Regions from separate parts of the Homo sapiens genome. Here regions 1, 3 and 4 are each linked to region 2. Evidence: fine-mapped expression QTL. A gene starts in region 2. Each other region holds a variant in brackets. All regions are shown on one strand. Distances are from middle to middle. Region 1 has its middle 120 kb from the start of TMEM132D-AS1. Region 2 holds the start of GLT1D1 (glycosyltransferase 1 domain containing 1). Region 3 overlaps GLT1D1 (glycosyltransferase 1 domain containing 1). Region 4 overlaps GLT1D1 (glycosyltransferase 1 domain containing 1).

What was found. PIP is the estimated chance that this variant, and not a neighbour inherited with it, causes the effect.
Region 1: its variant is fine-mapped to the expression of GLT1D1 in whole blood (TOPMed, PIP above 0.99).
Region 3: its variant is fine-mapped to the expression of GLT1D1 in whole blood (TOPMed, PIP 0.92).
Region 4: its variant is fine-mapped to the expression of GLT1D1 in unexposed skin (GTEx, PIP above 0.99).

What each region holds. Positions count from the first base shown.
Region 1 is chr12:128,986,222-128,994,326 of GRCh38, forward strand. No RefSeq gene overlaps it. Among named protein-coding and RNA genes, the nearest start is that of TMEM132D-AS1, 120 kb to the right of the region's middle. The variant C/CA (reference allele first, on the strand shown) is at 3,461.
Region 2 is chr12:128,849,380-128,857,484 of GRCh38, forward strand. It overlaps GLT1D1 (glycosyltransferase 1 domain containing 1), which reads left to right and starts at 4,099. Exons shown (of 12, transcript NM_001366886.1): 1 at 4,099-4,270. The coding sequence starts at 4,203. It overlaps LOC100128276 (a long non-coding RNA gene), which reads right to left and starts at 3,716. Exons shown (of 3, transcript NR_148996.1): 1 at 3,697-3,716; 2 at 2,814-2,973; 3 at 1-81. RefSeq lists silencers at 4,078-4,177, 4,368-4,567 and an enhancer at 4,429-5,080.
Region 3 is chr12:128,969,440-128,977,544 of GRCh38, forward strand. All of the region lies in intron 11 of GLT1D1 (glycosyltransferase 1 domain containing 1), which reads left to right. Among named protein-coding and RNA genes, the nearest start is that of GLT1D1, 120 kb to the left of the region's middle. RefSeq lists enhancers at 2,283-2,784, 2,785-3,284, 7,118-7,622. The variant C/T (reference allele first, on the strand shown) is at 4,433.
Region 4 is chr12:128,908,479-128,916,583 of GRCh38, forward strand. It overlaps GLT1D1 (glycosyltransferase 1 domain containing 1), which reads left to right. Exons shown (of 12, transcript NM_001366886.1): 5 at 3,946-3,982; 6 at 6,455-6,511. Among named protein-coding and RNA genes, the nearest start is that of GLT1D1, 59 kb to the left of the region's middle. RefSeq lists an enhancer at 8,018-8,105. The variant T/G (reference allele first, on the strand shown) is at 3,418.

The sequences.
Region 1 (8,105 bases), 140 kb after region 2:
ACATTTTCTTTATTGAGTCCTCCATTGATGGACACTTAGGTTGATTCTGGATCTTTGCTATTGTGAATAGTGCTGTAATAAACATATGAGCACAGGTGTCTTTTGGGTATAATGATTTCCTTTGGGTAAAATGTTCAGACATTTTGTGTGTAGTTTTTAGTTTGCTGACGTACAGGTTTGAATGACTCAAAAATACATTTCAGGATAAAATTGAGATACTATAACCTTTACATATTGAGGGAAATACTTTCAATAAAAATAACACTAAGCCAGGTGCAGTGGCTCATGCTTGTAATCCCAGCACTTTGGGAGGCTGAGGCAGGCGGATCACTTGAGGCCAGGAGTTCAAGACCAGCCTAGCCAACATGGTTCAAAACGCTGTCTGTACTAAAAACACAAAAATTAGCCAGGCATGGAGGCACATGCCTGTAATACCAGCTACTAGGGAGGCTGAGGAAGGAGAATTGCTTGAACCTGGGAGGCAGAGATTGCAGTGAGCCAAGATCATGCCACATCACTCCAGCCTGGGTGACAGAGCAAGACTGCCTCAAACAAAAACAAAAACAAAACACAAACTATATATACATATGTGTGTGTGTATATATAAATACACATATGTATATATACATATATGTATTTGTAAGTATACATATATACACACTATATACACACAATATAAGATATGCATATATGTATATATACACATATATAGATATATACACATACATGTGCGTATATATAGATATATACACATACATGTGCGTAGAGATATATACACATACATGTGCGTATATAGAGATATATACACATATACATGTGCGTATATATAGATGTGTGTATATACATGTGCGTATATATAGATGTGTGTATATACATGTGTGTATATATAGATGTGTGTATATACGTGTGTCTATTACACATGTGTGTATATGTACATGTGTGTATATTACACGTGTGTTTATATTATATATACACGTGTGTGTATATATATATCTCTAATAACTTAGTGTCGTGTAGCAGAGAGGCATTGCTGACACTCGGCTGAAGGTCCGAGTGATGAGTTGAGGCTTACAGCTTCTCCTTAAATACCAGTGTTCAGCCCTTTCCCACACTCTCACAGTAAAGCAGTAAGACAGAGTACCTTTTCCACCTTCAAAGGTTCATCGTGCATCTTAAAGTTTAAAAAACCAGACTGCATAGGCTCCCCTTGTCAATGGGATTACACGGGCACAGCCAGACCCCTTGCCAGCCCCACAGATCTGGAAAATGTGGTGAAGACTGCACTCCCTGTGTACGGTTAAGGATGGAATTTTGAAAACATTTGAGCTCACAGCAGGTGTCTTGGTGTCGTGTTAATTGCCTTCCTCTTTTGGCCTCTGCAGTAGTACTTTGCATGGAGCTACAGGACCTCTTCCCTTGAAGGGTCCCTGGTGGTTGAACTTGTCTTCTTTAGCATTTATCTGGAGCTTCTTATGAGACGGGAGAGCTAGCTCTTCTTATCCATTTTCTGATGAAGAAACGTTTGTCTTCTCCTTCCTCACCTCCCTCCCTCTCTCCTTCTTTCTTTGTTTCCTTGCATCTTCCCAGTCCCCACCCTCACTTCCCCTCTCTGATTCTAATGTCACTTTAAAGGGTCAGTCATTGGTAGGAGCTGATGTGGGAATGCTGTGAGCAGAGATCCCCGTACCTGGGATCAGCCGTACCTGGCAGGACCACTTGAAACAGTGGCTCCCAGCCTTGTCTTTGAGAAATCTGGATGCTCAGGTGGTGTCCCTGACCAAAGGCATCAGACTCTCAGGGGAGACCCAGGCCCGAAACACCCCAGTGACCCAGTGTGCAGCAGAAGCTGACAACTGCTGACTTACCTCATCCCTTCGAATACGGACCAGAGTTTCATGGAAAACAAGGACAGTCTAAGAAAAGGTTGGATTGTGACTTCATACTGAAAAATGAAGCCCAAAATTATGAAAATAGGTTAAATCTGTCCTATGTTGAATAAAATTTATTTACGCAGGCATAATAGAAACTGAGTATACAGGGGCTCATGCCTGTAATCCCAGTGCTTTGGGAGGCCAAGGTGAGAGGATCGCTTGAGCCCAGGAGTTTGAGACCAGCCTGAGCAACATAGTGAGACCCCATCTCTATAAAAAATAGCAAAAAATTAGCCAGACATGGCAGCGCGTGCCTGTAGTCCCAGCTACTCCAGAGGCTGAGGAGGGAGGATTGCTCCAATCCAGGAGTTTGAGGTTGCAGTGAGCTATAATGGCCCCATTACACTTCAGCCTGGGTGACAGAGCCAGACTCTGTCTTTATTTAAAAAGAAAAGAAAAGAAAAGAAAAGAAAAAGACATTAAAGACCTTATAAGGCTGAGAGATACTTCTTTTTCCTTTTCTTTTCTTTCTCTCTTTTTTTTTTTTTTTTTTTTTTTTGAGACGGAGTCTCGCCCCGTCGCCCAGGCTAGAATGCAGTGGTGTGATCTCGACTCACTGAACCTCTGACTCCTGGGTTCAAGCGATTCTCCTGCCTCAGCCTCTCAAGTAGCTGGGACTGCAGACAAGCACCACCATGCCTGGCTAATTTTTGTATTTTAGCAGAGACAGGATTTTGTCATGTTGGCCAGGCTGGTCTTAAACTCCTGGCCTCAAGTGATCTGCTCACCTCGGCTGCCCAAAGTGCTGGGATTTCAGGCATGAGCCACTGTGCCCAGCCAGGCCAAGAGATATTTCATACAACTAAGTAAGAAACAACATGCCAGTACCTCATCGATACCCCCCAGAGATTCTCTCCTTCCTTTGAAATTGAAGTTTTCTTCCGCGAGTCCTGTCCCCCTTATCCTCCTTCTGGGTTTTTCTTCAATTGTTAGCCGGTTTCCAGCACTGCCAGAGCCTCACGTGCCTGTGGTCCAAGTAATTCTCCAACATCGATTTCACCAATTTCAGCAAATCCTGCATCTTTTGCAACCTTTGCAATTTTACTTTTCAGTGTATTTACATCCTGTTAGTATTTTAAACATTTTACACACCTAAGAGTCAGGAGGAGGGACCGACTTGACACTGCTATGGAGTGGGAGGGTATCAGGATGACATTTGGTTAAAACAGACATAAGATCCATAATAAACAGTGGCTTAAGCAAAAGAGGATGCATATTTTCTCTCTCTCAAGAGATTCACCGAGCAGGTATGGGGCAAAGATCCAGGCTCTTTCCATCCTGTTCTTCCATCCTCAGTTTGTGGCTGTCTCTACCTCATGGTGCAAGGTGGCTGCCCATGCTCCAGCATCATGCCTGAATTCCAGGCTGCAGGAAAATGGAAGGCAGGAATGAAGACATCTCTCTCCTTCCTTCCAGGACAATCTCCACCTCCACTTACATCCCATGGCCACACCTAGCTGCAAGGGAATTTTGGAAATGCAGGGTATTCTGAGCAGCCATGTGCCTGGTTGAAAAGCTGGGATCTATGA[C/CA]AAAAAAAGGGAGAATGCATACTTTAGGGGCAGCTTGAAGTTGCAGCTGCTATTGAGACAAACTGGTTTTAGTGTCTGCAGCAGTTACAGGCATCCTACTTTTTATTAATCACTAAATACCTTTTAATGCCAAGAAAACTGTTTTCCAGCAGGTTTTAATTTAGCCTTTGAGTCCACTGTGACACAGCTCACCTTTCTTCCCCAAGATCCTCATTTGTAAAATGAGTCCTCAGCCAACTGCTTCTACTGATTAGTGCTTCAAACCCTGCAGCTCCTAAATTAAAAACTCAGAGTGAAAGAGTGCAGGGGTTTTCATCTGAATCTCCTCAGATGTCCCTCCGTGTTAAGTGAGACACAATCCTGGAAAACACAACACAATTAAATGTATCGACTATATATAATTTTGGCTTTTATTTATTTATTTATTTTTATTTTTTATACAGAGTCTCACTCTGTCACCCAGGCTGGAGTTCAATGGCATGATCTCAGCTCACTGCAACCTCCACCTCCTGAGTTTAAGTGATTCTCCTGCCTCAGCCTCCCAAGTAGCTGCGACTACAGGTGGGCACCACCATGCTCAGCTAATTTTTGTGTGTTTTTTGGTAGAGACAGGGTTTCACTGTGTTGGCCAAGCTGACCTCGAACTCCTGACCTCAAATGATCCTCCTGCCTTGGCCTTCCAAATTGCTGGGATTACAGGTGTGAGCCACTGAACCCGGCCTAATTTTGGCCCTTGTAAATGTTTTTATGACTACCCTGAATGACTAAGTACATTGTTGTTCCTGTTGGAGGGTCTTGGGAAATAGAAATCTCTTCTGAAGGGATCCATGAGTCAGAGCTTGACTAAAACAAATCAAGAATTGACATTAAAAATGAGATAAAATGGAATTCCATCTTGTGCAGAGTGTAGGTTCTAGAGGTAGCATTTAAAACCAAAATCTCGTATAGTCAACATTCTCCTTGAAAACTCCCCACACGCACGGCACGTCTGATCGCATATGTACAGCCCTGCACATCATATCCTATGCACAGTCAAGATTTTCAGCCCCTGAGCTCAGTGGAAGAAAGTCAACCTCTGACTGTCTGACTCTCCAAGCCATTCTGTTTTGAGGTACAGAACTGAGTCTCCAGCAGGAAATGTGGAAATATTCCCATTTTCCTGTGGGGTTTATTTTATCCTGTTTGACAGTGGCTATATAACCATTCATTCATTCATTCTACAAATTTTTATTAGAATAATTGGCTCAGGCTGTGTTTTGGGGGCTGGGGTTACCTTGCAGGGGTGCTTCACAATTAGTATTAATTAAATCGTGTTAGAATGCATTCTCCTTTTTTTTTTTTTTTTTTTTTTTTTGAGACAGAGTCTTGCTCTGTCACCCAGGCTACAGTGCAGTGGCATGATCTTGGCTTACTGCAACCTCTGCCTCCCAGATTCAAGCGATTCTCCTGCCTCAGCCTCCTGAGTAGCTGGGATTACAGGTGCCTGCCACCATGCCAGCTAATTTTTGTATTTTTAGTAGAGATGGGGTTTCACCATCTTGGCCAGGCTGGTCTCAAACTCCTGACCTTGTGATCCACCTGCCTTGGCCTCCCCAAGTGCTGAGATTACAGGTTGAGCATTAATGCATTCTCATGGAAAGTGTTCCATAATGTTACAGAGTCATCTCTAATGAAGAAGGTAGGATCAAAAGTCATTGAGAACATGACCTAAGAGCTATTCAGCCTCAACAATTTTTCAGGATAAAAACCACATCCAAGAGGCTGCAAGTAATTTCTAAGAGAATCTTTGTAGAGTAAAGGAATTTCTGGGAAAAATGAATACAAAAAAGGGGGAGGGGTTTATTGAAAGGAATGACTTCATCTGCCTCTGCGGCCACAATCTATTTTAAAGAGATTATTTTATAATTTACTTCTTTCAGACTCATAAATAGTCCTTAAAAATTTAGGCTGAGAGAATTGTCCTCCTAAAATATAACATCATTCTGCTAAATTACAAAAGCTTCAAAAGCTTTCTCCTTAGAAAAGAAGAAGAAAAAAAAAACAACCATAGTCATGCCTTTTTCATTAGAGGCCTTTAAAATCACCCTAAGCACTTTGGAAAGCTTCAACTAGTAGAACAGTCATGCTTCGTTGAAAACAGATTGTTGTCTTTAGCATCTGTATTTTCATTTTACCATCTAATATAAAAATATGGTAGAAAGGTTAATAGCCAGACGTTTACAAGAATCCAGAGATCGGGGTGCCAAGAAGTATAATTCAGCGGTCCCCAAACTTTTTGGCAGCAGGGACCGGTTTCATGGAAGATAACTTTCCCATGGACTGGGGTTGGGGGTGGATGTGGTTTGGGGATGATTCAAGTGCATTGCATTTATCGTCCACTTTATTATTATTACATTGTAACATATGATGAAATAATTCTACAACTCACCATAATGTAGAATCGTTGGGAGTGCTGAGCTTGTTTTCCTGCAACTAGATGGTCCTATCTGGGTGTGACGGGAGACAGTGACAGATGATCAGGCATTAGATTCTCATAAGGAGCACACAACCTAGATCCCTCACATGTGTAGTTCACAATGAGGTCCATGCTTCTGTGAGAATCTAATACTGCTGCTGATCTGACTGGAGGTGGATCGTGGTAATGTGAACAATGGGGAGCGGCTATAAATACAGACGGAGCTTTGCTCACTCGCCTGCTGCTGCACAGCCCCGTTCCTAACAGGCCACAGGCCGGTCATTGATAGTACAGTCAACTATAATAGGTTTCTGACTCAGTATTTGGTGTAAATTCCTTGATTTTAAAAATATATGGAAAAATAGCTTACAGAGTCTAATGACCTGCTGGATTTGGATTCTGTGAAGAAAGTGTCCCTCTCTGTGATTCTCTGTCGTGTCTCTCCCGACGTCTAAATGCACTCAAGGGCTCAGCCATTCTGTAAACAACTGCCAGTCATGAGAGGATTTGGAACAAAGCCGTGTTTATGAATTAGACACCGTCAGATGGGGACAGTGCTCCACTTCTGTCCACCACAGCAAACATTAACTGAACAGCTACTCTGTGCCAGGCAGTGCTCAGTGCTGACAACATTGAACTTCCCGAGCTCTGTGTTGCCTGAAAAATACCTGGGTTCATTCACCTGGCGAGTTACAAATGACTCCATCACAATGTGGGTTTTGATCAATAGGAGTTTTACTACTTGACTGAAGTAAGGAGAGCCCTGGGAGGGTTCCTCAAAGCAGCGTCTCCGTGGGGGGAAGTGACAGGAGGGCTTATGGGGTCGGGGAGAGGGGAGATGGTATGTCATTGCATGTAGAGCTTGGGCCCCAGCTGCAAAGACACAGTGAGTCTCATGTCAGCACAGGTCACATGTGATGGTAATGAAGCTGTAGCTGCCCCTGGGATGGAGGCTCTAGCGTGGCACTGAGGAAGGCTCAGTCAGGCTCATCTATAAGTTACTGGGGCTGTCAGGAGAGGGTTCCAACCAACAAGGTGTCCGCATTCCACCCAGGGTTTGGGGAAGAACAGGCTGTGGGGCAGGAGACTGTAAAACTGGCTGATGCTCAAGTGGATTAATTTCCCACAGTCCCTGGAGATATTCCCTGTCTGCTGACACCTGGAAGACAGCAAAGGTCAGGACACCCCTCACTGCAAAGAGCCCCTTCCCCGAATGGGAGGAGACTCACAGATACCCTTATGTTTACCTGTGACAAGGCCAGATACAGCCCCTTCAAAATCTCAATCTTTGCCTCATCAGTGACTGAGCTGAACTGTACCCCCATGGTGGACCAGAATAAAATGCATGTGAACTAGCCAGGCACAGTGGCTCATGCCTGTAATCCCAGCACTTTGGGAGGCTGAGGCGGGCAGATCATGAGGTCAGGAGATTGAGACCATCCCGGCTAATGCGGTGAAACTCCATCTCTACTAAAAAATACAAAAAATTAGCCGGGCGTGGTGGTGGACGCCTGTAGTCCCAGCTACTCGGGAGGCTGAGGCAGGAGAATGGTGTGAACCCAGGAGGCGGAGCTTGCAGTGAGCCAAGATCGCTCCACTGGACTCCAGCCTGAGCGACAGAGTGAAGACTCCGTCTCAAAAAAAAAAAAAAAAAAGGCATGTGAACCAAACTTTATTAAAGCTCCTCTCCATCTCCCAGGCCTGCGCCACTCCCCAGCCTGAGCTGCAGATGGCCCCCAGCAGATCCTCCTGGGAGCAGATGGCTCCAAGGCAAAACTCTGGATCTGCTGTCTGGTTTTTGCCACCCTCGCCCCAGCTCCTCACACTGTACTGGCTCTTCCTAGCTTGTTTTTGCCTCCCCCCAAAAAAGGAAAGTCCAGGCTGCCTGACCCTGGATACTGGCAGAGCTCACAGTTAGAGCCCTCTCTCCACATTGCCATCTTCCCTTCCTGCCCCCTTAGGGATCCGTTAGAATAAAGTCCCTTCCAGAGTCCAGATTTGCTTCTTATTGGACAGTGTCTTATCCACAATAGTTCAGTTAATCCTCAAACCACCCCATACATTTACAAGTGAGAAAGCCAAGGCCCTGAACCTGGTCCTGAGACAGGGGGAGGAAGAGTGGGAGCTAGGAAGCACTGAGACAGGGGGAGGAAGGGCAGGAGCTGGGAAGCACCTGAGACAGGAGGAGGA
Region 2 (8,105 bases):
CCTTCTCCATCCCCAAATTTCCAAAAGTCCTCTGGAGAGCAGTTCTGAATCTGGTTCAACCACTCATAAGCTGTAGAGAGACTAGAAAAGAGATAATCACAGAGTCAGGCAATTTTTACCTGCAAGATTTTAAAAAACAGAGTTTTTAAAGTTCTTCGTAGTTTCTTATATTACTGAATTCCTTCCTTCCTTTCATCCCTGCCTCCCTCCCCATCCCTCCTTCCTTCCTTTGTTCCTTTCTTTCTTCTTACTTTTATTACTTCTTTTGTATCATCAAGAATGAGTGTTGAATCCTACTGAATGTTCTTATTCCACCCATTGAGAGGGTCATATGTATTTCTGTTACCGGAAAGGGGTCCTATTTCAGACCCCAAGAGAAGGTTCTTGGATCTCACACAAGAAAGAATTCAGGGCGAGTCCATACAGTAAAGGGAAAGCAAGTTTATTAAGAAAGTAAAGGAATAAAGAATGGCTATTCCATAGACAGAGCAGCCCGAGGGCTGCTGGTTGCCCATTTTTATGGTGATTTCTTGATGATATGCTAAACAAGGGGTGGATTATTCATGCCTCCCCTGTTTAGACCATATAGGGTAACTTCCTGACGTTGCCATGGCATTCCTAAACTGTCATGGCGCTAGTGAGAGTGTAGCAGTTGAGGACAACCAGAGGTCACTTTCATTGCCATCTTGGTTTTGGTGGGTTTTGGCCGGCTTCTTTACTGCAAACTGTTTTATCAGCAAGATCTTTGTGGCCTGTATCTTGTACCGACCTCCTATCTCATCCTGTCACTTAGAATGCCTTAACCTCCTGGGAGGCAGCCCAGCGGGTCTCAGCCTCATTTTACCCAGCCCCTATTCAAGAGGGAGTTGCTCTGATTCAAATGCCTCTGCCATTTCCTCTTTTAATCTATTAATTTAGATTGCTATGGCAGAGGTGACTTACTGCAAACCTATTCTGCCACTTTTCTTTAGTAACCACGATTGTATTTAGGTGGCAGTGTACCCAGTTAATAGACCGCATGTCTTAGCCTCCTTGGATGCAAGAAATGGCCACGTGGCCAACACAATAAAGGCATAGGGCTGTTTGCATTTTTAGGAAGACACTTTAAAATAAAATACACCATCTGGAGTGCACCACTTTTGCCTTTCCTTCCTTCCTGCTGCCTGGAATGTTGATGTGATGGGTGGAGCTGTAGCAGTCCTACTCCTTATCAATTCCTTGATAAGGTGATCTTGAGACTAGAAGCTAAACACTAGCATGATGGAGTAGACAGAGGAAAGTCTGGGTTCCTGGTGATGGTACAGCCACTATATTAGGCTTGGGCCACCTTCTTCTGAACTTAATTTACGTAAAAATAAACTTCAAATTTTTTCTAAACACAAGAATACAGATCGAGGTTATCAAGGAATTGAAGTGAGCCTTCAAGCACTGTGTGAAATGGCACATTCAGATTTCATCTTAAGCAGGCAGCTGCTTCCCAGCTTCAGTCAGCCACAGGATGGTGGCTTCATTTAATCAGATCTCTCATTTTTTAACAGATATCAGAAATTCCAACTTCTATATGAAAGCTCCCAATTAAAAAATGGTGGCTTGGCCAGGTATAGTGGCTCACGCCTGTAATTCCAGTACTCTGGGAGGCTGAGGTGAGTTGACTGCTTGAGCCCAGGAGCTCAAGACCAGCCTGGACAACATAGTGAGACCCCACTTCTACAAAAAATACAAAAAATTAGCCCAGCATGGTGGTGCACATCTATGGTTCCAGCTACTTTTTTGGAAGGCTGAGATGGGAGGATCACTTGAGCCCAGGAGGTGGAAGCTGGAGTGATCCATAATCACACCACGGCACCCCCAGCCTGGATGACAGAGTGACACTGTCTCAAAACAAACAAAAAATAATAGCTCAGCTTTTATGAAAAACACGGTGTAGCCTAAATACATCTAAGGATGATATTGAGCCCACAAGGCTGCCAGTTCAACTCTCCTTAGGGAGGTTCCTTTCTGGGCTCATGCTGAAGTCGCCTTTGTAAAATCAGAAATGTATCTGTTCACATTTAGCTTTTAATATCCCATGGGCAAGGTGAAATAGGGGAAGATCATGGGCAAGTGCCCCCCTCTACTTCTGTATACCACACCAGACACTGCGTTTTATTGCCTCTTCTTGGTGTGTAGCAAATATATCAGGAGTCCACTCAAAACTTATTTATTTATTTAACACTGAGTCTTGCTTTACTGCCTAGGCTGGAGCGCAGTGGCATGATCGCGGCTCACTGCAACCTCCGCCTCCTGGGTTCAAATGATTCTCATGCCTCAGCCTCCCAAGTACCTAGGACTACAGGCTTGTACCACCATGCCCATCTATTTTTCTATTTTTGGTAGAGACGGGGTTTTGCCATGTTGGCCAGACTGGTCTTGAACTCCTGGCCTCAAGTGATCCACCCACCTCGGCCTCCCAAAGTGCTGGAATTATAGGAGTCAGCCGCCGTGCCCGGGGTCAAAACTCTTTTTCTAAAATGTCGTTAGAAGGGGGTTGTGACAGCTCTGTGCAACTTGTCCCCTTTCCTGTTTGCTTATGTAATTCTGTTGGAAAGTATTAAGTTGTTTAGCAGAATGATAATATTTTCAGATCGCTTTTGTCCTTTAAAAAGGATGTGGCCTGCCTGCCTGGTGCCTGGGAAGCTGAAATACCAGGAAGAAGAGCAAAATCCTGGGTGTTTTTTTGAGAGTGAGAGGAGGACAGGATTTTGATTGTTCTACAATGATATACAACTCTTCCCTACTCCATGCCACACTGAGAGGCAGAGTGGTGGACGTACCTGGGAGAAGCCTGCGGAGCCGAATGTGCCCTCCAGGATGGACTTTTATATCTTGATAAGCCTGGGGGTCACCATGCTGCGTAGGGAGGCCGGAGACCTGCCACTGACGGTGGTTATCCCATGTCATGGCTTTCTTCATTCCCACTTTACCTTTTTGAGGCTGGAAGGTATTTAGGGGATGACAGAAAATCAAGTTTGAAGGTCAATGGAAATATTGGGCACCCACTAGAATGTCCCACATCTGTAAATACATGTGCATCTTTGTAAACACTTAACAGCTGTTTTGGGGAGTGCTTGTTTAAATCCACAGATGGCATTTTGCCAGAGGCCTCCTTCAGTTCCCTATTTCTCTCACTCAAGGTATCCTAGTTTGGAGATCCAGACCAGGTGCAGCCCATGTACCCTGATGAACCCCAGGTTCCCCTCTCCAACATCTTTCTCACCCGACAGGTGCGGCCCTGAAATGGGTTTCTACTGTCTCCTCACACAGTCCCCATGTTCCCCTCCTCGGGTTAGTTTTAGGGTAGTCTAGCCTGGGAAGGAATTTGGGACTGATCATGCCACGTTCCCTGGAATGGGACTAGAAAGGAATCCTGGGCTTCGTGCGGACCAAGGCCCCACTCAGGTTGTCATGGAAAATGAGGCTGAGAGCCCCTCTCTGCAGCACCCTGTGGGACGGAACCCGAGGTCTCTGCTGGTCCCGGTGGGCACAGACCTGCAGCCAACCCGGTGTTCCGTGAAGCCCTGATTTCCCAATGAAGCCCATGGAAGCCATCACTGGTTTCCATGGGAGCGGACCATGGCCACCCCTGCTCCTGTTCCCTGTGGGAAAGGACCAAGGCCGCCCCTGGTCCTGGTCACTGTGGGAAGGGACTGTGGTCACCGCTGGTCCTGGTCCCCTTGGGAGGGACTGTGGTCACCGCTGGTCCTGGTCCCCGTGAGAATGGTCTGTGGTCACCGCTGCCTGTTCCCTGTGGAAGGGAACGTGGTCACTGCTGGTCCTAGTCCTCTTGGGAGGGACTGTGGTCACCGCTGGTCCTGGTCCCCGTGTGAGGGACTGTGGTCACCGATGGTCCTGGTCCCCGTGGAAGGGACTGTGGTCACCGCTGGTCCTGGTCCAGGTGGAAACAGACCGCGGCTACCCTGGTGATGGACCCCACGGGGCACACCCGCGCCACCCCGCACCCAGGGCTCGCGCCGCCCGAGGCCCCCGGTTCCTGTCCCCCTCCCCGCCTGGCGCCGGAACCTGCGAGCTGGGGCGCGGCCTCGGGGAGGGGCGGGCGGGACAGACCCAGCCGCCCCGGCTCCCCCGCCGTCCGCGTCTGCGCCGGCCCCGGGGCCTGGTCGGCGGCGGCGGGGCCGGTCGATGGCCCGGGCGGCGGCGGCGGCATGCGGCTCCTGTTCCTGGCGGTGCTGCGGCCACACACCGGCAACGCGGTCACGGCCCAGCGCGTTCGGTAGGTGCAGGGCGCCGGGGCCTACGAAGCCTGGGCCGGGGGCCGGGGGGCGGGGACGCGGGACCCGGGGACGCGGGGCGCTCAGCCAGGCCCCCTCCAGCCGCGCCGGGGCCGTCCCGAGCCGCGCGCACAAACGGATGGGCCGGTGCCGCCTGCCGGGCGCGCGGGGGTCGGTGCCTTCTGCGTGGCGCGCGTGTCCCCGGGTCTCCGTGCGGCCGGCGCATTGGCCTCGCGCTCTCCGGAGGGGACTGAGCAGGTGAACAGGCCCGGAGCCTGTCGTGGAGGGGCCCGGGAAGGCCTCGCTGCAGAAGCAGGATGGGAGCAGGATCCGCAGGGATGCGCAGCGGGGTCCGCGGAGCTCCCGGCGGGGGCGCGTTTCCAGGCCGGGGACCGCGGTGCCAGCCCTGCCCTCGCGGATCGGGTCTCGGCTGTGTGCCGGCGTCCGGGGTCCTGTCCCCGAAGTCCCTTTCCCACCTCCCCTCTGCCCTGTCTATTCTCGTCTTCCTGGCTGGTTAGCTCCTTCACACTCATCTTTTTCTGCCTTTGTCTTATTTGTTTACTTGTTGGTCTGTGTTCTGGTCGCTGGAACGCAAGCCCGGCGGGGGCCCGGGGAGGGGCCGCCGCGTTAATCCCGCCGCCTCCCACCCGCACAGCGGGCGCTCGGCCTGTATTAGCCGGATAAACATATTCCTTGAGGCGAAGCCTGGGAAGTGCCAGGATTAGAGCCTGCAGCTTAACAGAAGCCGTGTGTGTGTGTGTGTGTGTGTGTGTGTGTGTGTGTGTGTGTGTAAAAGCGGACTTGCTTCATGAAATTTCCCGATTTACTTCCCTTCTGTGGGCCTGTTTCCCCATCAATTTATTTTTTTGAAATGGAGTCTCGCTGTGTCACCCAGGCTGGAGTGCAGTGGCGCAATCTGGGCTCACTGCAACCTCCGCCTCCTGGATTCAAGCATTCTCCTGCCTCAGCCTCCCAAGTAGTTGGGATTACAGGTGTGCACCACCACGCCCGGCTGATTTTTGTATTTTTAATAGAGACAGGGTTTCACCATGTTGGCCAGGTTGGTCTCGAACTCCTGCCCTCAGGTGATCCGCCTGCCTCGGCCTCCCACAGTGCTGGGTTTACAGGTATGAGCCACTGTGCCCGGCCTCCTCATCATTAAAATGAGCAATTGAGACTCCACCAACACTTTCATGTCCCTTTCAGCTAATTTCTCCTAAAGATCATAAGCAGAAATGACCAAGAGAGGATCCATCAGTTTTCTGAAATTTGCTGGAAAATTTACACTCAGGTTTCATGGTGCAGGTTTCTATTAAATAGGTCAGTGATGCTCTGCTTGGGTTTAGCAGTGAGGAGCCCTTTGTGTTCCTGGCTCTGTTGGATGAACCAGCATCCCAGTATGGGAGAGGAATGAAGGAGGTGATTTCACATAGGGATTAGTGCTATTAAGAAAGCAAAACTAGGAGGCTGAGGCAGGAGAATCGCTTGAACCTGGGAGGCAGCTGTTGCAGTGAGCCAATTGATCTGGGATCACGCCACTGCACTCTAGCCTGGGTGACAGAGCCAGACTCCATCTAAAAAAAAAAAAAAAAAAAACAACAACAACAACAAAAAAAACAAAAAACCTAGGGCAGGCTTTCATGGCGGCTCAAGCCTGTAATCCCAGCACTTTGGGAGGCTGAGATGGGAGGATTGCTTGAGCCCAGGAGTTAAAGACCAGCATGGGCAACATGGTGAAACCCTCATCTCTACAAAAAAAAATTTAAAAATTAGCTGATGTGGTGTGTGCATGCCTGTGGTCCTAGCTACTCAGGAGGCTGAGGCAGGAGGATCAGTTGAGCCCAGGAGGTTGAGGCTGCAGCGAAGTGACATTGCACCACTGAACTCCAGCCTGGGTGGCAGATCAAAACTCTAAAAAATAAAACAAAACTGTTAACGGAAAGAGGTCCTGATCCAGAACCCGATAGAGGGTTCTTGGATCTTGCACAAGCAAGAATTCAGGGCGAGTCCTTAAAGTGAAAGCAAGTTTATTAAGAAAGTAAAAAAATAAAAGACTGGCTACTCCATAGACAGAGCAGCCCCAAGGGCTGCTGGTTGCCTTTTTTTTTTTTTTTTTTTTTTTTGAGACAAAGCTTCATTCTTTCGCCCAGGCTGGAGTGCAATGGCGGGGTCTCAGCTCACTGCAACCTCTGCCCCCCGGTTCCAGCGATTCTCCTGCCTTACCTTCCGGAGTAGCTGGGATTACAGGCGCCTGCCACCACACCCAGCTGATTTTTGTATTTTTAGTAGAGACAGGGTTTCACCATGTTGGCCAGGCTGGTCTCGAACTCCTGACCTCACGTGATCCTTTGGTCTTGGCCTCCCAAAGTGCTAGGATTACAGGCATGAGCAACTTCGCCTGGCCTTGGTTGTCCATTTTTATGGTTATTTCTTGATGATATGCTAAACAAGGAGTGGATTATTCACACCTCCCCTTTCCAGAACATATAGGGTAACTTCCTGGCATTTCCATGCATTTGCAAACTGTCATGGTGCCGATGGGAGTGTAGCAGTGAGGACAGCCAGAGGTCGCTCTCGTTGCCATCTTGGTTTTGGTCGGTCTTGGCTGGCTTCTTTACTGCATCCTGTTTTATCAGCAAGGTCTTTATCACCTTGTATCTTGTGCCGACCTCCTATCTCATTCTGTGACTTAGAATGCCTTAACCATCTGTGATTGCAGCCCAGTAGGTCTTAACCTCATTTTACCCAGCCCTTATTCAAGACTGAGTTACTCTGGTTCAGACGCCTCTGACAAAACTAGATAAAGTGATTGAGAGGCATGATGATGGCTGAGATGCTTTAGAGAATGTGGTCTGGGAGGCTGTCTCCGGAGATGACATTGAAGCTAAGACCGAAAAGAGGCTGTCACTGAGATCTGGAGGGATGGTCCCAGGAAGGAATAATGGTGAGAACACAGGTCCTGAGCTGTGTGAGAAGCAGAAAGGCAGCCAGGGTCACTGGACTATAGAGAGTTTGGGGCCAGTGCTAGGAAATGAGTCAGAGAGAGAGGCCAAATCTGGCTTGTACATGTGGTGGGGAAAACACTTTGTGCTTAAGAAGTAATTACCACTAAAAAAAACAAGAAAACAAAAAAAGATGGTGAAACCCCATCTCTGCTAAAAATAAAAAAATTAGCCAGCTGTGGTGGCACAGACCTGTAATCCCAGCTTCTCGGGAGGCAGAGGCTCAAGAATCGCTTGACCTGCAAGGCGGAGGTTGCATGAGCCAAGATGGCGCCACTGCACAACAGCCTGGGAGACAGAGAAGACTCCGTTTCAAAAACAGAAAAGAAAATCAAAAACAATGTTGAGTGACCGAAGAACCTGAACGGGCACAGAGTTAGAAGCTTCAGGCAAAAAGGAAATATTACCTGTTATTTAATATTTTGCTCCTAACTTGAGCTGTAAACCCACATCTTCCAAGGGCCCAAACTCACATCCACCCACAAGGTCACGTTACTTTTGTCCCAACTCAGAGGTGAATTAATAGAAAAAATAACTATGTTAGCTGCCGTCCTGAGATTCACTCCCCCATCATTCTGTTGGTGGTGCACTTTTGAAAGTGCCTGTCTTGCTAGGCCTTGGGGCTACAAAGGGGAAGGAGGCGGGCAGGGTTTATGCAGAAGGTTGACTTCAGCTAAACTGGAGTGGAGGGCCATTTAGTCACTTCGTTCTTTCTTTTCCTGGCTGTGCAGAAGCAGAATAAAGGCTGCTATTCAGGCTTTGATGTTTATTCAGACCAGGCGTTTGTTGTCCTTCACCTCAGGAAGGATTGCTGGGGGAAGAAAAAGAAAAAAGC
Region 3 (8,105 bases), 120 kb after region 2:
CCAGAGGTGGGAAGAGAAGCCCCTGGCTGACTGTGCAGCCCCTAGGGCAGGTTTGCCCCGAGCTGGGTGTGCACCGAGCTGAGTGTGCACTGAGCTGCTGCGCGGCAAGCAGGGCCAGGACGCGGGTGAGCCACAAGGTGGGGCTCACTGCTCAGGCACAGAGGCTGGGCCATCACCAAGGTGCGGAGGCACTCGGGGCTCCTCCTGGCCGCCTCACTCCTGACCAAGCAGGGAGCATCCTGCTTGCATCGCGTCTGGAATTCTCTGAAAATACAGAGAGGGAAGAGGCAGAGAGAGAAGAGCTTCCTTCCCGCTGTGAGCTCAGTCCCCACCTCTGAGAACAGGAGGAGGCATCTCTGCGTCATCCTGACACTTGGCTCTCCACCATCTCCTGGGCCCTCGCGTGGGTGCACCTGTTGCTCTGCAAAGCCTGCTGGGCACCTGCCAGGAGTGTGAGCCCGCAGGCTCCAGCTGGGGACTGTGATTAGGGGAGGGGCCAGGCATGGAGAGACCCTCCCCTCCCCCTGCCTCTGCCTGTGTGCGCTTCCTGGAGGCCTCCTGGTGATCTGTGTCAGCCCTGACAAATGCAGTCCCCAGTCAGCGGGGTGCTTGCCTCACATCAAAACAACGCTGCTGTAGGAATCAGCTCCGAAGGCCGTTTCTGGGGTATCCTGGAATTCAGAAGGAAGAGGATGGTGACATGTTGGCACTGGTAGAAGCCGGGCCAGGGTCTGTGGAGGACCCCGGTGGGCTGCAGCCTTAGGGGTAATGCTGCAGGGGAAGGCCTGCTTGGAGCCTCAGCCCCTGCCTGTTGCAGGTGCGTGCACAAGCAGCTGGGCACACCGTCCTGGGTCCTGGGCTCCCAAGCCCGCCGCGCCCTCTCCCCTGAGCCCCACTTCCCATCTGTCCCACTTCTCCTGAGCTCTGTCTGCAAACGCAGCTGGACCCCATCTCCACTGCACTCCCGGACCGAGGGGCTGTAGGGTCTTGCCTGGGCTGTTCCAGCAGCCTCCTCCTTCCAGCCCGCCCACTCCCTCCCCGCAGCCACAGGCACCAAGTCAAAGTCCGCTTCTATCCACTGCAGCTGAGGACCCTCTGGTGGCTTCCCCTTTGCACCTAGAAGAAAATGCCACTGCTGGCCTGGCTTCTGAGGCCTTGCACAGCTTGCGCTGCCCCCTCCTCGTTCCAGGCTTCTCTGTCCGGCACCTGAGCTTTGCTCACCCTCTGTCTCTAACCGAGCTGCGCCCACGGCTGGCACCTCCTCAAATGTTTCTTGGTTGAAATCACCTTGGAAGGACTTTTCGTGGCCACCCACTGTGACTGGGGTTCCCATTTGGGTTTCCTCTGTCCCCGCACCTGTGTCTGTGTACACTGCACTCTTTGCCATCTATAAACACCAGTCCCCAGCCTGGAAGCTTCCCGAGGGCAGCAGTCAGGCATGTTTACTCATCAGCTGTCCCTCGCAGGGACTCTGATATGGACTGGGTGCTCAGTGAGTACTGGAAGGGATGATTATGCCCCGGCGTACAAGGCGCAACCCTTCCAGAGGGCGTGTTTTTTTATTTTCATCTGATAGTGAGCGATGCAGCACGCCACACACTTGTACTTTAACTGCTCTCATTTCTTTTTCTTTTCAAAGTCGCAGATGACAGCAGTCATCCCGCCCAATCATTGGCACCTGTCGGATTTTGTCCCCATGCCTAGCAAGTAGTCTCTGACAGTTTCATGCCAGTCACAGGTTCTGGTGCTGAGTGCCACGCGGCAAAACGACAGGATCGCCTACTCCTGCCTGGGTGCTTAGATCCCATGTAAATGCTTTTGGCTTAGAAATTGTCTTTCTTTTGCCCTCCCTTCCTCCCTCCCTCCTTCCTTCCTTCATCTCCCTCCTTTCTTCCTCCCTCCTTTTCTTCATCTGTTCTTTGCTCCCATTTTCTTTGATTTCTTCTCCCTCCCTCCTTCCTTTCTCCCTTCTTCCCTCCTCCCTTCCTCTCCTCCTCCCTCCCTTCCTCTCTCCCTCCATCCCTCCCTCTGCCTCCCTCCCTCCCTCTCTCTACCTCCCTCCCTCTCTCCCTTCCTCTCTCCTTCTGTCCCTTTCTCTCTCCTTCTCTCTCTTCCTGTCTTTCTCCCTCCCTCCCTACCTCCCTCCCTTCTTCCCTCCTTTCCTCTCTCCCTTCCCCCCTCCCTCCTCCCTTCCCCCCTCCCTCCTCCCTTCCCCCCTCCCTCCTCCCTTCCCCCCTCCCTCCTCCCTTCCCCCCTCCCTCCTCCCTTCCCCCCTCCCTCCTCCCTTCCCCCCTCCATCCTCCCTTCCCCCCTCCCTCCTCCCTTCCCCCCTCCCTTCCTCCCTCCCTCCTCCCTTCCTCCCTTCTTTGCTCCCTCCCTTCCTCCCTTCTTTGCTCCCTCCCTTCCTCTCTCCCTTCCCCCCTCCCTCCTCCCTCCCTCCTCTCTCCCTTTCTGTGCGCCATTGACCTCATCGTTCCGCATTAGTGAGCTCAGCCTTCTTTTGAGTTTTGCCGGGAGAATCCATTGTTTGCACTTTATACGGGAGAATGGTCTCTGTGGTTTTCCCTGACTCTCTGTCGCACACGTCAAGGCTCCCTCTCCAGGGTCGCTGCCACATGTCTGAATGAGCAAGCTGTCCCTTGGGGATCTTGGGCTGCAGCGGAACTGGGCTGCATGCGGGGCAAAGCCATGAGACGACCAGGGTGCCAACAGGAAGTGGCAGCTGCTCTAATGGGCCCCATCACTTCAGGAGGGCAGCATTGGGAGACATTATTTCTCGCTCTTCTGGAGGCCAGAGCTGGTTGTTTTGGTCTGTGACCACCGCCCATGCGGTCACTCAGAGCCCAGGCTCCTTCCATGGCCTGGCTCCAGCTCCACGTGTAGGTAGCTGCGGGAGAGAGAAGACAGGGTCCACCATGGGAGGTATGTGTGACTTGGGCTGGAGGGAGCACACGCCCCTCTCTGCTCATGCTCCCTTGGCTGGAACCCAGTTACATCACACCTGCTGCTAGGGAGGCTGGGAATTGTGGCCCGGGAAGAACCGGGGAGCAACTGTGTGACTGGGTGCTCCTCCTTTCACCCCAAAGACTGAGGCTAACATGTTCTGGGAGGAAAAAAACACAGAAAACAAGACCCATCATAAGGAAGATGGCTAGCATCTGTTGAATGCTTGCTCTGCAGATACAAATGTGGATTATCTCGTTTAACCTGCACAATGACAAATGTGCTCTTATCAGCCCCATTTCCTAGATGAGCAAACTAGGCACAGAGGAGTTAACTTCCTCAAGGCCCAGAACCTGGTAAAAGGTGCAGCTGAGGTTCATACTCTGCTTTCCAGCTTTATTAAGGTCTGCTTGACAAATTTAAAGATTGTATACATGTATGGTGTATCACTTAGTGTTTCGCTGTGTGCATCCATTGTGCAATGATGAAATCGAGCTAATTAACATTTCCATCCCCACACATACCTTTTCTTTGTAATGAGAATATTTAAGATCCACTGACTTAGCAACTTTCAAGTATACTAGAGTCACCAGGCTGCCCCATAGGTCTCCAGAATGTGACCCTCCTAACTGAAACTTCGGAACCATTGACCAGTGTTTCCTTATTTCCTCTCCTGCAGCCTGCCAGCCCCTGGTAACCAACCTCCTACTCTGTTTCTATGAACTTGACTTTTTAAGAATCCACATATAGGTAAAATTATGAAGTATTTGTCTTTTCTGTTTTGTTTGTTTGCTTGGTTTTTTTTTTTTTTTTTTTTTTTTTTTGAGACTCGCTCTGTTGCCCGGGCTGGAGTCCAGTGACACGATATTGGCTCATTGTAACCTCCGCCTCCTGGGTTCAAGCAATTCTCCTGCCTCAGCCTCCCCAGTAGCTGGGATTACAGGCATGTGCCACCACACCTGGCTATTTTTTTTTTTTTTTTTGTATTTTTGTAGAGACGGGGTTTCACTGTGTTGGCCAGGCTGGTCTTGAACTCCTGACCTCAAGTGATCCACCCACCTCGGCCTCCCAGAGTGTTGGGATGACAAGCGTGAGCCACCACCCCAGCCTGCTTGTGTTTCTTTCCTCTCCCCCAGGCATAACCAGAACGAATGGCAGATTTACCGCCGCACTTTAATGGGCTGCTCTTTCCCTCCAACTTCCTCCTGCTCTAACCCGCCAAGCCGTCACACAAGCCCAGAGGAAGGTCTCCCGGTCCCCCTCTTCCCTCCCTTTTCTGCCTCTCACCTTCTTCTTTCCTTCAAGATGCCCACCTTCTCCCCACCAACCCCCAAAGCACACCAGAGCAGCAGAAGCACCTTTCAGCCAGCCGGGTGTGTGTTGAAATGGCTAGTGTTCTACTCGGCCCATCGTCTGGAAAGTGAGCGAATGAGAAGCACAGAAAATATTCCTGAAGTTGTTTTTAGCTTCATCGGTGGCTCCCAGGTTT[C/T]CCGTGTGTGTGTGTAGGGGGTGTGTGTGTAGGGGGTGTGTGTAGGGGGTGTGTGTGTGTGTGTAGGGTGTGTGTGTGTGGGGGGGGCGCTTGGTGATCTGTGCTCCACACCACATGCAGCAGCGGTGCTCAGAGGGGGACAGTCTGGGTCTAGATGCCTTTTCTGCCACTCAGTGATGTGTTAACCTCAGGCAGGTTCCCAGGTGACCTGGGCTCCCATCTCTTGATCTGTGCGTGTGGAGGGGGAGAGGGCGCATAGGAATAGTCCAAATTCCTAGTTCCTTTTCTGCAATTTCAAAATCCAAAAAGCGCTTGGAAAACATGCAGTCGGGACCCACCTGCCAGCTCTGTGCGTTTTTACTAGCAGGTACCTGGCTGATGGCCGGAGTCCTTGTTCACACGGACATCTACGGACCCACCCGGCTCACAGATGGCAAGGGCTCTTGCTCCCTCCTACCCCAGCCACAGCAATGCCTTTGAGCCACACTAACCCTGCATCGTGCATTTCATGAGCCACAGAGCCCCGGGAATGGCAGGAATAAAACACAGGTTCTCCGACGGTCAGTGACCCTGCTGTTAGCTACCCAGGTCTTGCACTGTTTTCCCTCCTCAAATAACAGCTGTCCTTTGACCAGCACAATCGACCTCTGCTGTGCAAACGCCAGAAGGGAAAGAGGAGTTTTACTGTCTCACCATCCATAAGACCACTCTTTTTCGTGAGTTTGGTGCCAAAACTCCTGTCTGAACTGATGTGAAGTCACCTAGGGCTGTTTGTCCTGCGTCACGGGACTATTCATACATTTTGATTAAGAAACACTGATCTGTTGTTGATGGGCATGGCCTTAGACCTCGCTGGAGATGATATGTAATAGAAGGCTATAGCAGCTGAATTACTAAAATCCCCCAGGTCCTGAATTCTGAAGCCTCATTCCGTGTACGTTTTTGAGCACTGGATGCATGTTGGCTGCTGTTGTTAATTTCTGGCTGGATCCTGACCTCCACTGGAGGCCCTTGGCCAGAGGCCAGCTCTCTCTTCGCTAAAGAAGTGTTGAAGAAAGAAGCATTTGCCCCTCATTGAGGCTGTTCTCCCCTCCACCAGCAGTGAAGATGAATCGGATGGGAATTAGCTTTCTCACCTGCTGGCTTTCCTTTGTTTAGTGCCCCCCCGCACCTGCACCTGCAAACCTCCTTCCTCATGCTACAGACTCCCACGCTCCGTCACTCCTGAGCACCCACCATGTCTGTGGGTGGCCTGTTAGATACACGCTCAGGCATTGTCCCGGCAAAGGGTCTGAGCACGGAGCCTCCCTGGCTCAGCGTGCTTACACAGGGCCCACTGGCAGATTCACTGGGGGTCAGTCTTGGAATGGACGTCAGACTCAGGCATCATGACTGGGGGCGGGGGGAAGTCAAGCATCGTGAGTAGGGGTCAGAGTCCCCACCCTACCACCTTGTCCTCTGGCTCTGTATTGAGTAATTGCTATGCACAGGGCTCATTGACTGAGAGGTTATTTCTGACCCTACCCAGTTGGCTTGCTCAGTTTCCATCTGCAGAAGATTCCCATAGCTGTTTTTTTGTTTTTTATTTTTTTCTTTTGAGACGGGGTCTCACTCTGTCACCCAAGCTGGAGTGCAGTGGCGCTATCTCAGCTCACTGCAACCTCCAGGTCCCTGGTTCAAGCAATCATCCTGCCTCAGCCTCTGGAGTAGCTGGGACTACAGGCGCGTGCCACCACGCCAGGCTGATTTTTGTGTTTTTTAGTAGAGACAGGGTTTCACCATGTTGGCCAGGCTGGGCTTGAACTCCTGACCTCAAGTGATCCACCCGCCTTGGGCTCCCAAAGTGCAGAGATTACATGTGTGAGCCACAGCTCCCGGCCCCCTAATGGCTGTTTTTGATACTTATTTTAAAGTGAGCCCCTAACTGTAACCATGATGTTCAGGGTGAAATAACTTCAATTCTCCTATAAATCAATGACTACTCTGTGTTTTAAGAGGTGGGTGGAAGGTTCATGCTGAAGAGTTTAGAGAAGAGCTTCGTGTTCTTTTGCATGGTCCTGACTTTACCCGATGCAGGAGCTACTGGGAGAACAATCAACGTACGCTGGCAGTCGGGGTGATGACATGGTCACATTGATGTGTCGTCAGCGGCGACAGTTTGACAGTTTGGATAGTGCCATAAAATGTGACCAGAGGGATGGTGCCGTGTACAAGAAAAGTACCACAGTCAGATGCACGTTCCTCTTCTAGGCATTGAGGTCTTGAAGGAGGAGCCTCACAACTTGCAGTTTTCAACAAAATAAATCTGTCCCATGACCAAATAATTTTTGGAAAATGAGGCAGGCACGGCAGGTTGCCTTAGACCTGTCAGGCTTCCTGCAATCCCCTGGGGGCGCTGTTGGACACTGTTAGAAAACGCTCATTCCTGAACCCCACCCTCCACCCACCCAATCAGTATCTCGGGGACTGAGGGCGGGTATGTGGGGCGTGTGTGTTTTACAAGCTCCCTTAGAGAGTCTTACAGCAAGGTTTGAGAAGCAAAGCCACCGTCGAAGCCTTAATTAACTCAAAGCCTCCAACCAGAAAAGCCCGAGGAAAACCCGAGATCTTTAACGACGGCGGCCTGCGCCAGCCTTGAGACACTTCCTCGTCAACGTCTCCCATCGACAAGCTGTCGTATTTGAAGCAGCGGGAGAGGAGCTTCGGGGCTGTTTAGTTTAACACACCAAGCCTGAAATTCAAGAGTTTTCCTGTGATTGACTGTAGCTCATCTTGGAAAAATAAGTATATATCACTTGCTGAAGGTTGTCAGAATGTAATGCTCTTTAAAACCGTAACGTTTTAAATCTGCCAGCCCCAGCATGCATCCTGCTCAAGGCTTTTGCTTCTCGTGGAGGAGTTTTTTTCCCCTTCTGTTCTATGGCTTTGAGGTGACATCATCATGAGAAGGATTGTAATGAGGTTCTAATATTCATTTTATAAAATGGGTACTGGCTGGGCGCAGTGGCTCACACCTGTAATCCCAGCACTTTGGGAGACCAATGAAGGTGGATCACTTGAGGCCAGGAGTTCAAGACCAGCCTAGCCAACATGGCAAAACCCTGTCTCTACTGAAAAAACAAAAATTAGTCGGGCGTGGTGGCACAAGCCTGTAATCCCAGCTGCTTGGGAGGCTGAGGCAGGTGAATCGCTTGACCCCGGGAGGCAGAGGTTGCAGTGAGCCGAGATCGCGCCGCTGCACTCCAGCCTGGGCGACAGAGAGAGACTCCATCTCAAAAGCAAAACAAGAAAACAAAATGGCCACCACTTCTTTTCCTCTGGATCTTGGTGAAACCTCAGGGGGATGGAGCAGGTCAAAAGGATTCAATGAGAAATGCTCCACCAGCAGCTCCAGACTCCTCAGAAAGGAAGAAGCTCTGAGGACGGTCATCAACTAATTGAGTAATTACTCTCTAAAGACAAAACCATGCTCTTTTGCATGATTATTATTATTATTTAACATCACAAGTGCATTACCTGAGCCAGCGTTGGCACACCTGTGGCCCTGGACCTACATCTGGTCTGCACATGTGTTTTGTTTACTTTGCTGTATTCTTAAAATATTGAATTACCTGTTGATATTTAACATGGAACACTTTTACATAAATATCCAGAATTTAGACCTCTCTTGGAA
Region 4 (8,105 bases), 59 kb after region 2:
CTTTTTTTCTTTCCTTCTTTCCTTCCATCCTTCCTTCTTTCTTTCTTTCCTTCTTTCTTCTTCTTTTTTTTTTAATTGTTCTCCTACCCAAGGCGGAAGACTGGCAGCTCAGCTAGGTGCTGGGCTCTGTATGGTGGCTGGCGTTTCTGTGGGACACGGAGGGCAGCAGGAAGGAAAATAAACACGACAGGCCGGGCGCGGTGGCTCACGCCTGTAATCCCAGCACTTTGGGAGGCCGAGGAGGGCGGATCACGAGGTCAGGAGATCGAGACCATCTTGGCTAACACGGTGAAACCCCGTCTCTACTAAAAATACAAAAAATTAGCCGGGCGTGGTGACGGGCGCCTGTAGTCCCAGCTACTCGGGAGGCTGAGGCAGGAGAATGGCGTGAACCCGGGAGGCAGAGCTTGCAGTGAGCCGAGATCGCGCCCCTGCACTCCAGCCTGGGCGACAGAGCGAGACTCCGTCTCAAAAATAAATAAATAAATAAATAAATAAAAAATAAACACGATAGGTCCAAGCGTCATTCCACTGGGTTTTGATATTGGCTTCGCAGCTAGTCTCCCGTTTCTGACCTGTGCCATCCATCTATAATGAAGCAGGACACCAACGCTTCTTCCTCATATTCCAGAATCCCAACTCTTGAAAACCTCTTTCTTTGTTGTTAAAATGTTGTGAAGTGTTAGTGTCTGGACATTTTTTTTCTATGAAAAATGATTAAAGTACTTCCTAGTAAAAAAAGAAAAGAAAAGAAAAGAAAAATTGTTCTTTGTGTGGTTGGTTCCATTGCAGGAGTTCAGTGGCAAGGCTGAATCTCCCCACACCTCGCCTTCCTTTTGAATATTACTTTCTTTTTTTTTATGCACGATAACAGATTTCTAAGGGAAAAGAGTAGAGGGAGGAAAAAAGACACTGTGACCTTGAAAAGTGCCCAATTTCTTTGTGTTTTGTGGCATAAATATATTTTGCAACTTTATATGTATGGGCCATCATTTCTTTTAAGCAGTTTGTAATCGTTTTACAAGTAGTTTTTACAAAGCCACAGTCTGAAGTTGTATTATAATTTCAGAACAAAAACTATTATTTTTGTCATCTGTAGAGCATAAAATTGTGCCTGTATTTCAAAAATAATCTATTGTGGTTTCCATTTGCAGAAAGTTTAATTTTAGAAGGTGAATCTCTGGCTTATGTTTAGTCAAAGAATGGGAAGTTCTTTGGTTGATGTTATTTCCAGCATGAAAAGGTATCAGTTAGTCCTTGGGTCTGTTAGAAGTCCATCTATTTATAGGTATCTATCCAATAGGATCCTGGCTTTTTATATCCAGTAATGAGCCAAAGAGGTAACAGTTGCTGATAGACACACCTCAGTGTTTGCCATTGTGTGCACTGATGAGCTAATCTGCAAGGCAGGCCGTACACAAGGACTTTGACTCATGTTATTTCAAGGCAGAGAGAACAATAATAAATATTGAGCAAAGAAAGCTAATTTGTATTTGTTACACTTTCATATAGAAAATGTTTTTCAAAATCAATATAAGCCAATTGGCTTTTGCCAGATTTCTTTTATTGCAATGATTACAAATAACTCAGGTCCAGACTTCCTTTATACTGCAACTTTATTTCCTCTGTTTGCCTGGATGAGATCTGAAAATACCATTTATGCAACGCTTTTCAAATGATTAGAAAAATGATGCTCAGAGATGTGGGAAGATCAGCAGATAAGTCCAGAAATCTTCACTTTCAGTCAATTCCTTCTGCTGACAGAGCTGAGATACAAGTTTAACTCTTTTTTTTTTTTTTTTTTTTTGGTGGAAAAAGGAGTTTCTTGACAGGAACATTTTGAGTTTATGTATTGCTAATTGCAGAGCCTATTTCCAATGAAAATAGTGACAAAAACTATAAACTCTATGTTGCCTCACCTTATATTTATCTAGGATTATGCTGAATCTGTTATTGTCAAACACTTATATTAAGTTATATTAAGTTAAATGCCATGGTGTTCTATTGTGAGTGCTTTACCATCCATCTTCAAGATGTTGCCAGGCGAGTGTTTTGGACACAGGGTTGTTTTAGGAAGAAACACTCCAAGCCTCCACTACACTCCAGTAACAGCTCTTCCAGCTTTCCAGGGAAATTATAATTCAGCATAAGGAGTAGTTTAGGGCTCTGAACTGCAATTTCTAATTTCAATGGTCGCCTTTAGCCTTTTTTTTTTTTTCATTAAAGTTAATGTCTTTTTTAACTGGTAGAGAAGAGGTCTTTGAAACTCTCTCTTAAAGGTTTACTATTTTAAGGGCATTTGGAATACCACACATACCTGCTTGCACGATGAAGTGGGGAGGAGAGGCAAGACTTCTGGAGGCTTGAGATGCTTCCTGTAGTGAAATACAAAATGCGATGCTAAGGACAAAACCAACACCATACCGAGCCTCGTGTGTACCCACCACCTTCTTTATTTTTTTTATTTTTCAGGCAGAGTCTCACTCTGTCGCTTAGTCTGGAGTGCAGTGGCGCAATGTCGGCTCACTGCAACCTCCGCCTCCCGGGTTCAAGCGATTGTCCTGCCTCAGCCTCCCAAGCAGCTGGGATTACAGGCGCATGCCGCCACACCCGGCTAATTTTTGTATTTTTAGTAGAGACAGGGTTTCACCATGTTGCCCAGACTGGTTTTGACCTCCTGACCTCAAATGATTTGCCTGCCTCGGCCTCCCAAAGTGCTGGGATCATATGGGTGAGCCACCATGCCTGGCCGTGCCACCCACCTTCTGCCTGGATGCTGCCTCTACCAAACCTTCCCAGGCTTGGGGAGGGCCAGTCTCCTTCTTCCTGTTGATTGTCTCGCCCTTGGCAGGGCTACTTCACTTTAGCTTGTGTCCCAAAATATAAAACTGAAGTGGGGACAACGTCCAACGTGGATCAGCATACCCCATGCAGTGCCGAGGGCTCCCTGGTGCCCTAAAGACCACACTGTATCCCTACACCGAGGAAGGACAGGGGTGTGTCTTCTGTGACCTCCAGGGATCTAGCTAGTTCAGTCACTTAATGCATTGATCAGGCTTAGGTCACATGACAAAAAGACATCCATTTTTGGACTCTTTCACCAAAATGACGGCCTGTTTTGATCACTTGAGAGAAACCGTCCTTGGCATGGACTTGCTCCATCACTCTGCTCCTGCCTCCACCTTTCCATCTAAACGTCACCTTAAAAATATTCCTGCCACTGTTTCAAAATGAACTGGAGAAATGGATTCAATTTCTCTCTAGTAGTTTTGTGACATTCCACCAGAAAACATGGCAAGGAATAGTAAGTTGATATCTTGGTACAAATATCCATATCCGTCATGCAAGGGCCGCCTTTTGCTTGGTGCCAGGGAGGTAACTTACCAGACGCTTTCCACCCGGCTGTCCTCCCTTGCC[T/G]GGAAGGATCTGCCTCCTGGGGCCTGTCTTTGGTTTCCCAACATATTGGCAGCTCCTCCTTCTCCTCCTGCTCCTTTCTTCTTTTTTTCTGGGGGTGGTGGAAGCAGTCTTCCCCTCAGGGATGCATAAGCCATAACATGCTTCCCCAAACCTCCACCTCCACGCAGGGGCGGGAGCTGCATCAGCTGGGCCGGCACTGGCATGCTCTCTGGCTGAACTTCAGTAATGTCTCCACTAATATAGCAAGTGTAAAATTGCAAAATTGCATTAGGCCTCATTTAAGAGACTTTTTGTGTGTGTGCTTCTTACCTTATAGATGCTGTATTTTTAATGGCAAAACCTATTAAAAAGCAGAAGTAATGCTTTGCTCTTACAGAGTAATAAGTCTATGAGCAGCTGTGTAGATGATTCTCAGTGATGTTTTCCAGGACGGCTTTTTTTGTTAATGACCTTCATTTTATTTCTAAAAAGCAGTTGTCATGCACTGTCCAATGTACTTTTCTTTTCTCTCTCCCCTCCTTTCAAAAGCCGCATGCTAAGGGTAAGGTCTATGTCCAGAGTCAAGGTAAGATTTTTAAAATATTTATTTACTTATGTACAGGGATAGAGAATGAATATATCAAAATAGATGCATATTTATATGTGATAAATATATATATATATTTAAAAGAATAAGTTTGCATCCTTAAGAGACACATATTGAGATGTTTATGAAGGAGATAATATGATTTCTCAGATTTACTTAAAAATAATCAGTGAAATGGCTACTTTTTTTTTTCTTTTTTGAGACAAGGTCTGGCTCTGTCGCCTAGGCTGGAGTGCGGTTGTGCGATCTCGGCTTACTGCAACCTCTGCCTCCTGGGTTAAAGCGTTTCTCTAGCCTCAGCCCCCCCAGTAGCTGGGACTATAGGCAGGCATGAGCCGCCATGCCCAGCTGATTTTTTTTGTATTCCTTGTAGAAATGGGGTTTCGCCATGTTGCCCAGGTTGGTCTTGAACTCCTGGGCTCAAGCAATCTGCCTGAGAATGGCTACATTGTTAAGATTTTTCTAACATTAGAATAAAAGATAAATAGGAGAAATTATAAAATAATGATTTAAAATGCGGATCACTTAACATTTTCTGCCAGTAGAAGTACGATATACTCCATCAGCAGTATGTTTGGAAAAAACAAACCAAACCAAATGCGGAGCTTCTGTTTCAGCTGACTTGAGTTGGGGGAACTGGAACTCTTCTCCCTTCATACTCCTCCTTCCTCCCTGCCCAATTCTGCCCCTATGGTGGCATCTGAGGCCCTTCATCAAACCCTCTGAGGTTTAAACACAGTTTTTTGTTTTTGTTTTGAGATGAAGTCTTGCTCTGTCGCCCAGGCTGGAGTGCAGTGGCGCAATCTTGGTTCACGTCAACCTCCGCCTCCTGGGTTCAAGCAATTCTCCTGCCTCAGCCTCCCGAGTAGCTGGGATTACAGGTGCCCCCCCACCACGCCCAGCTAATTTTTGTGTATTTTGTAGAGACAGGGTTTTACTGTGTTGGCTAGGCTGATCTTGAACTCCTGACCTCAGGTGATCTGTCCGCCTTGGCCTCCCAGATTGCTGGGGTTCCAGGTGTGAGCCACCGTGCCCGGCCTCTCTAAACACAGTTTGTAAACCACTGTACTACATGATAGAAATAATGGAAAGACTAGATCCAAGGAAGAACATGTAATTGGCCCCAAGCTCAGGTTAGAACGAGTGCAGAGGCTGAGGCCAGGCGTTCGGGCCTCCTGAGGACTTCCATGGTGCTCAGGCGCACCTTAGTGAGGCACGGCATCCTGTCATCACCGTGTCCTTGCTGCATTGGCTTCAGTGACATTTTTAGCTGGTGCAGCAGGAAAAACCTGGGCTCTGAGGCAGCGCGTAGGTTTGAACACAGCGTCTACCACCTCCACCCTGCGCATTTTGAAGTGCGTTTAACCTCTTTGAACATCAGTGTCCAGCTGGATAAACTGGAGGAAGCAGTCTGCTCAGTGGGCCTTTAAGGGTTACAGTGGAGTATGGAAAGCGCCTACATGCAGTCGGAGCCCAGGGCTGGCTTGAAATGGGCGCTTGTTAAATAGCCGCTGTCAGTATGATTCAGTGTGAATAACGATTATGCAGGTGGATTTTGGAGGTGGTTAGATGACTTGATTTACTTACATTTTATAAAATTTCAAAATGTTTCTGTTACCAAGATAACGTGTTAGACGTTGCCTCTGAATTTCTAAATTGTAAAATAGTCATTTTTTTTTTCAGCAAAAATTAAATGTAACTTCTCTCTCTGAAGAAGTAATAGCCAACAGACCATCAGGCATGAGTTGGTGAGGGTTGAGAGTGGGAATTTTACAGGGAGGTATAATTTTCACATGGGGCTTAGCTGACAGTGTTTTTGAAACCTGTTACTTCCTGGCATTTTTAAGGAACTCAAGGTTTGTCTAACCCCTAACCCCGTTTGGGCCTGTCATGGATCCTGGGGCTGAAAGGGGTGCGTCTTTTCTCATGTGGAATCCATGGGCTCTTTTTAACCCTCCTGTGCTGAAGGATTCATGGGACTTCAGTGACACACTCAGAGCATCGAGCGGCTTTATAAAAACCAGGTGCTACTGTTATTTAAACTTCAACACAAGTGGGCCGTGTGTGGTGGCTTACACCTGTAATCCCAGCACTTTGGGAGGCTGAGGCGGGAGGATCACTTGAAGTCAGGAGTTCGAGACCAGCCTGGCCAACATGGTGAAACCCTGTCTCTACTAAAAATACAAAAATTAGCCGGGTGTGGCAGCGGGCGCCTATACTCCCAGCTACTCGGGAGGCTGAGGCAGGAGAATCGCTTCAAACCGGGAAGAGGAGGTTGCAGTGAGCAGAGATCGTGGCACTGCACTGCAGCCTGGGTGACAGAGCGAGACTCTGTCTCAAAATAATAAGAATAATAGTAATAATAATAATAAGCCTCAACACAAAATAACTCATTGTATTTCAGCAGTCGCTTCAAAGTGAACTTGCCCTTTTTTTGTTTCTTTGACCCAGGAATTGCAACAACACCAAACGCCGCTTTTAACTGGAATACCTTTCTTCAACGCTCTGGTGAGACATGAGATCTTCTTAGAGGATTTTGATGAAGTGCATCTTGTCAGTTACTTTCAGGAGCTTGTGACGTTCATGCGGTTTTGAAAAAGTGGTTGTCAGAGAGAACAAGGTTCATTTCCCTCTGTCTGCGGCTTCATGAGTAGTTTTATCCTTTTGAGGAACAGCAGGGCTAGAAAGCCAGAGAGACAGGGGCTCTGGCCCTTTCTGATGCTGTTTTTAGCACCTGCTTTCCAAATTTTCAGTATCATTTCCTGTGACATTTGTTCTTTATAAGAATAACAACCTCATGTGTTCATTTTATTTTACTTTACTAATTATACACGTAGTTAAATTACCATTGTAGAAAAATGAGAAAATATCAGAATATGCAACACATTTTTTTTTTTTTTTGAGATGGAGTCTCGTTCTGTTGCCCAGGCTGGAGTGCAGTGGTGTGATCTAGACTCACTGCAGCCTCTACCTCCCGGGTTCAAGTGATTCTCCTGCCTCAGCCTCCTAAGTAGCTGGTACTACATGCATGCGCCACCATGCCTGGCTAATTTTTGTATTTTTAATGGAGACGGGGTTTTGCCGTATTGGCCAGGCTGGTCTCGAACTCCTGATCAGGTGATCCACCCACCTCAGCCTCCCAAAGTGCTGGGAATCCAGGCATGAGCCACTGGGCCTGGCCAAAAAATGCAACAAAAATTTTAATCACTTGAAATTTCATCACCAAAAAGAAACTGCTATTAATGTTTGATGTGATCTTTCTCAACAATTTACATGTAAATAATGATGTTTAAAAGACAAAGTCAAGCTTCACTTACTACTCTAACCTGCCTTCTTTGCTCATTATGTCAGTAGAATAGAGTGAACTCATCCTTTTTTTAAAATAATTCTATAGTTTGTATGCAGTGAAATGCAGAGATCTCAAGTGTAAAATTAGGCAAATGTTTGACAAATGTATATACCCATGTGACAAATACCCCAATCAAGATAGATAACATTTCCACCACTCAAGAAAGTTCTCTCATGCCCTCTTCCATATTTAATTTCTGTCTCTTTATAGGCGATTCCTAGTCTAATTTTTCTTATCTTAGATTAGTTTTACCTGTTCTTGAACTTCATCTAAGTGGAGTCATGCATTGAATAATTTTTTGTATCTGGCTTTCTTTGTTCAACTAATGTGTTTGAGATTTATCCCTATTGTGTGTATCTGTAGACCTTTTTTCTTAGTATTCTATTTTGGAATGGTGTATTTCATTCCATATATCACAAATTGTTTATCTCTTCTTCTATTGATGAACTTTTAGCTTGTTTTCCATTTTTAACCGTTACAAATACATTTACTATGAATATCCTTGTGCAAGGTTTTTTGGTGACCTATGTTTTCACTTCTCTTGGATAAATGCCTCTAAGTCAAATAGCTTGACTATATGATTAACATTATAAAAAATATCCAAACAGTTCTCCAAGGTGTGCCATCTTACACTTCCACAGAAGCTGACAAGAGCTTCAGTTACTCCACATTCTTGCCCACCGGTGGAGTAGACAGTCTTTTCAATTTTAGTTGTTCTAGGGAGATAATGAAATGGTGTCTCATTGTCATTCT